Regions from separate parts of the Homo sapiens genome. Here region 1 is linked to region 2. The links come from fine-mapping of genetic effects on gene expression. Tissue or cell type: tibial artery. Region 2 holds a variant in brackets; the other region holds the start of a gene. All regions are shown on one strand. Distances are from middle to middle.

Region 1 (2,764 bases), 27 kb after region 2:
ACACAGCAGCACAGGGTTGTTGGAAGAGTAAAATGAAGCAACAAACAAGAAGATGCTAGGGATGGTAGAAAAATGCTAATAAATGTCAAATATGGATAGAAAGGAAATTGGATATGAGGTATAGGTCTGTTTAGTTTTATTAACAATAAAATAATTATATATTTAATATATTTACCAAAAAAGAAACTGCTTGACAAAATAATTCCATATACTATAACGTCAAATTGTAAGGCTTCCTATTGCTTTCACTTTTTTTAGTAAAAGTTTTTATTGAAGTATAATCTGATTGCATTTTGGAATAAGTTAATTTACAATAATTTAATTTATCTTATAGCCTTTTAAGATCACATTCAGTGCAATGGATAAAGCAGAATGTATCTATAATTTATTGTCAGGGTTAGAGACTTGAACTGATAAGGATATCGTTATCTACTGTTTAGGGCAAAAGATGTAAAATGACTGTGCATTAAGTGCCAAGGTTTTCTCTAAAAAGGGCCCACTGTAAACGCCAGAAGCGTGCCAGTTCAATTCAACAAATATTTAATTAGCACTTGTGATTTCCAAGGCACCGTTTTGGGTACTGAGGAGGAAGCAAAAAATGAATAGCTGCTAATGCCAGCGAGAGACAAGACATGAACCAAACAACTAGAGTGGAAAGAGTGGGGCGTCGTGATGTAGAAAACGCAAAGCACAGGAAGAACCTAGTGGCGCTTAAAATAATCCAACTTTTCCTGCCTTTTTTCTTCTTCTTTTTAAGATTCTATTTTGGATCCCTTTTCGCATGTGCCAGGTCGCTTGTCGGCAGAGAATCCTCAACCCTGAGAAATCTCTCCTCCTATTCTTTCTTTCCTCACAAATTCGATGAGCTCTTCTGCCATCAGCACTGCTTTTGGAATGGTATCTATTGTGTGGGTGGCGAAACGATGGAGAGATATTTTTGTTCTAATTATGAGAACTGTTTTACTGGGGGAAGGAGGGAGAGGCTGATCTGAAGCGCTGATGAGCTGCTCTGAGAGGATCCTCCGAGGAGGCGTTACTAAGGTTACTAGAGAGAGGACGGCAGGTGATAGGCACGGTAAAACAAAATATATTTTCAAATGAGAGGCGTGGGCTAAGCAGCAAGCAGTGCCAGCGGTACTAGATGCCGGATTCCCTAGAGGGGAAAGGAAGGAGGCCCAGGGAAAAACTGGGAGCCGCGACTTGGCGAAAGCTGGAAGCCTCTTCGTCCCTTTCCGGGCCGTTTCTCCCGCTGCCCTTGTTTCCCGGAGCTGTTCTGGCTGTAGCACAAGGTCGGCGCACTCGGGGGACGGTGCCATTTAGATGTAACACGTGGCCGTGTCGGACCGGAAGTGGTGCCCAGTCGGGACCCGTAGGGAGAGGCGGGTTGCGGGCGGCGGCGGCGGCGGCGGCGGCGGTGGTGGTTGTGGCGAGGCTGTGCGGCAGGGCGCACGGGACCTGTGCTGCAGCGGCTCTCTCAGGCCGTGGGTCGTCGCTGCAGCTGCCGGGAAAGAAGGAAACGACGACTCCGGGGGCGAACTTGGCACACAGGGAGGAAGGGAAAGGGTGTGTGAGGAGGGCTGTGGGTATATTTGGCATCAGGGAGAAGGACCTCAAAACTTGTTTTTCATATAGTACTAGCTGATCGTCGGGTTTTTTTTTGTTTTGGTTTGGTTTTTTTTTTTTTGGATGACAGATTCTGGAGACACCTGGCATCTCCGTTTTTGAGTTTCTCCCCGCTCTTGTCAGTTGATTCGTAGGCCTGAAGTGAGTGAGAGCTTTTTAGTTCAACCAGTGAGTTAAGATAGGTATGGGTCGGATGGAGCGGCCAGCGAATAAAGAAATGGGAGAGTGGGAGCAAGAATAGGAAGTCGTGTCCTGGGGCGAGGGAAAAGATGATGATGATGATGTAACATTTACTGGGTTTCACTGTACAAGACACCGTTAAAACCCTTTAGATGAGGCAACTCTTTTAATCTCCATTCGTATGAGGTCAGCCATCTTACTAGCCTCTTTTTATAAATGAGGACACTGAGGCTTGGAGAGGTTAAGGAACAGGCCCAAAGAAAGACAAATGGAAAGTGCAGAGCCAAGCAGTGAAATCTAGTAGGCTGATCCTAGAATATATCTCTAAACACACTACAGCTGTCCCCCATCAAGATGTAAAGAACGTGAGGACATAGGACAAAGAGTGAGAGGACAATATGGCTTGAACAGATGTGGTAAGACAGCTGGAGTTGACCTAAAAAAGGGTGTAAAATCCAGGTGTGTAAGGCAATAACAGATGTAAGGGAGGGTAGAGTTGGAACTCGGGCTTTCAAACCTTCATCTCCAACCTTAACTAGCATCTTCCTATCTAGGATTTTAGTGGGGCAGAGAAGAGAGGTATATACCCACACACCTATGTTTGAAAATGGAATTACAGACTTTAAAGGTTATTTAAAGATTTAAACAACTTAAAGATTATTTCATGTAGCTATCTTATTTAATAGATGAAGTCCAGGGAGATGAAATGACTTATTCAAGGTAGCCAGGACTAGAAACATGTCGTTTACCCTAGATCCAATGCAATGAAGTTTAGAGAGTTCTTTCCTCTTTTTCCAGCTGCACTTGCTGTCGTTATATTAGTTTTAACAATTTGATATATCATTTAACCTGGACTGTTCCTTCCAGCCATGTAAATTAGTTATGTATGACATCAAATAGTCCATCCTTCCTTCTTAGTGTGTGTTCCAAATTCAGTGCAAAGCTGGAACTAGGAGCTTCT
Region 2 (2,764 bases):
TATTTTTGCGAGGAAACGTTACTAGAAAAGCAAGGTCCAGAGAGAAGCAATGCATTAATGTTGTGATTAGGCTTAAAGATAAAGCAGCACTGGACATCCAGAGTTGTCTTGGTCACTGGATCAAAGGGAAGAAATAGCATTTGAAGATATGGGAAGGGAAAAGTCTACATACCTAAAGCAGGGCTGACATCATATGATGATAAATAGCTGTTACTTACTAAATATTTACTCTGTGCCTGACACCGTGATTATAAATAAATGTTCTCGTTTGATTCTCAGAATTGCTGAATTAGTCAGGTGAGGCTAACAGCCATAACAAACACCCTCAAATCTCAGTGGCTTGATATTTTAAAGGCTGATTTTTACCCATGGCACAGTATGGGCAGAAGGCGGGGGAGGGATTCAGGTTCCTTCCTGAATAAACTCACCCTCCCCAGGACCTTGAAGTTCTTCACTGGATCTTCTGCATCTCACTGGCAGATGAGGGTAGAGGGAGCAAGTTCACATGGCAGGGACCCCATGGGAGGGTTCTTAAGATCTAGGCCTGGATATAGCATGCATCACTCCTGCCAACATTCCATTGGATAGAATGCAATCACATGGCCTGCCTAGCTGCAAGAAAGGTTGGGAAAAGTGCACAACGACTATGACCAGGAGGAAAAAGAAAGTGTGAGGAACACATAGTCTCTGACCTAAGTACTTATCATTACCCCCATATTACAGATGAAGCTGAGTTTTAGACAGGTAAAGCAACTTGCCCAATAGCACATAGCAAGTAAATGGTAGAATCAGGATAGGTTTTTGGCATGGTAAGTTCTTGGAAGAGCCCAAGAACCTGACTACAAGTTATTGAGCTTTGCAAGTAGAGCAGAAACTGTCACATTTACGGAGCACGTTCTACAAACCTGGGCATTTTTTTTTTGAATTTGTGGACATTACAGTGAAATATGTAGACATTATAGTTTTCAACACTACGATGGAAAGACAATAGTGGGAACAGGGTGAGGACAAGGTAATCTAAAGGTGATACCTCTTTAAGTACTTGATTCCCCGCAAAGGTTCAGGTCTGGTCCCCTGGCTTGCTCCCCAGGTGTTAGATGATAGAACTGAGCTCATCTTTTGCTGCACGCAAGCATGCACCCTTAACCACTGCAGACTCTCTCAAAGATTTATTTAAGATTCCCTTGTTTAACAGCACCTACTTTGATATGGCTACAGGGGAACCTACCACATTTTAGACTTAGGTGCAAAGCATTAGATCTTATCCCACCACTTCCTTGTCTCACAGAGCAG[T/C]GGTAGTCCCAGTGTGTCACCTGAGGCCTAAGGTGATGAATTTATTTCCCTACGCTGTGTTCAGGCCATGTAGAACTATCAATATCCACATAAACTCACCATGTTCTCTTGACTCCCGGCCTTTGTACTCATTGTTCCCTCAGCCCCAATGAGTCTAGAATCACTGGTGTGGACCTAGATGTCGGCAATTTTCTTTAGCTACTCAGGTGGTTCTATTTTATGGCCAGGGTTGAAATCCAATGACAAGATCAGTCTAAGCCAATCGTGGCCAGTCACATTCTCCTTGGCCAGATCAGTGAATGAACATACTCCTTATCAATCAACATAGATAGGATTTTGGGAAGTCAATTCTCATGATATGATCACTATCAGTTCTCTGATTGTCATAGACTATCTTGAGTGTATTTTCAAGGCCCCCTTGTATTAGTCATTTCTCACACTGCTATAAAGAAAAACCTGACACTGGGTAATTTATAAAGAAAAGAGGTTAAATTGGCTCACAGTTCTGAAGGCTATACAAGAAGCATGGCAGCATCTGCTTCAGGGAAGGCCTCATGGAGCTTTTACTCATGGCAGAATGCAAAGTGGGAGCAGGCTTCTAACATGGCAGGAACAGGACCAAGAAAGAGAAGAGAGAGGTGCTACATGCTTTTAAACAACCAGATCTCATGATAACTCACTCACCTGCTATCACAAGAACAGGACCGAGGAGATGCTGCTAACCCATTCATGAGAATTCTGCCACCATGATCCAATCACCTCCCATCAGGCACCACCTCCAACAATGGGGATTACAATATGACATGAGATTTGGTGGGGACACAGATCAAAACCATATCACTCCTATAACACTTTCAGCTTGTTCCTATCATAGAATTCTTCCTTGTTATGCAATAGGCCAGCCTGGGAGATGCTGCCCTAATGATTTGGAAGACTGTCTACTCCTATGTGCCACTGTAGCTCAGTAGGGCACCCTAGGGCCACCGCCACTCTGCAGAACACTGAAGTGGTGACAGTGGGTTCTAGTTCTCTGCACCAAGTCTAAAATGTGGTAGAAAGGGGAACTTTCAAAGCATTTTGTACACGTTGTGAGGAAAGAATGATTGCCGCTTTAAATCTTGACTCCTCTGTACACCACTTGGCCCTCAATATAAAATCTGTAAATAGCCCTGCCTTTCTACGTCTCCCAGCTCCCCACCCTGCATGGATTCTGTGTCCAGACAAGTGAAGGTTTCTTGTGGCTGACCCTGAGTTTCCTGCTACTCTGCCTTTGGTCACACTGTTTGCTTTCCTAGTATGCTCATCTCTTCCCCTTCCCAAACTCCTCAAATGTTACCACCTTAAACTAAAGCTAAGGGTTTCTAGGTTCTCCAGCGGAGAGTGGAGTCAAGAAAAGGGTTCTAGGAAAATTTCAGGGTGTGGATGCTGCATCTGTTGATCCAGCCACCTAGGCACTATAGATGTACCTTAG

Evidence for each region. PIP is the estimated chance that this variant, and not a neighbour inherited with it, causes the effect.
Region 1: it holds the start of FRA10AC1, and the variant in region 2 is fine-mapped to the expression of FRA10AC1 in tibial artery (GTEx, PIP above 0.99). The same link has a PIP of 0.9 or more in skeletal muscle.

The regions. Positions count from the first base shown.
Region 1 is chr10:93,701,174-93,703,937 of GRCh38, reverse strand. FRA10AC1 (FRA10A associated CGG repeat 1) reads left to right here and starts at 1,346. Exons shown (of 14, transcript NM_145246.5): 1 at 1,346-1,563. RefSeq lists an enhancer at 1,058-1,357.
Region 2 is chr10:93,728,208-93,730,971 of GRCh38, reverse strand. No RefSeq gene overlaps it. Among named protein-coding and RNA genes, the nearest start is that of FRA10AC1, 27 kb to the right of the region's middle. The variant T/C (reference allele first, on the strand shown) is at 1,294.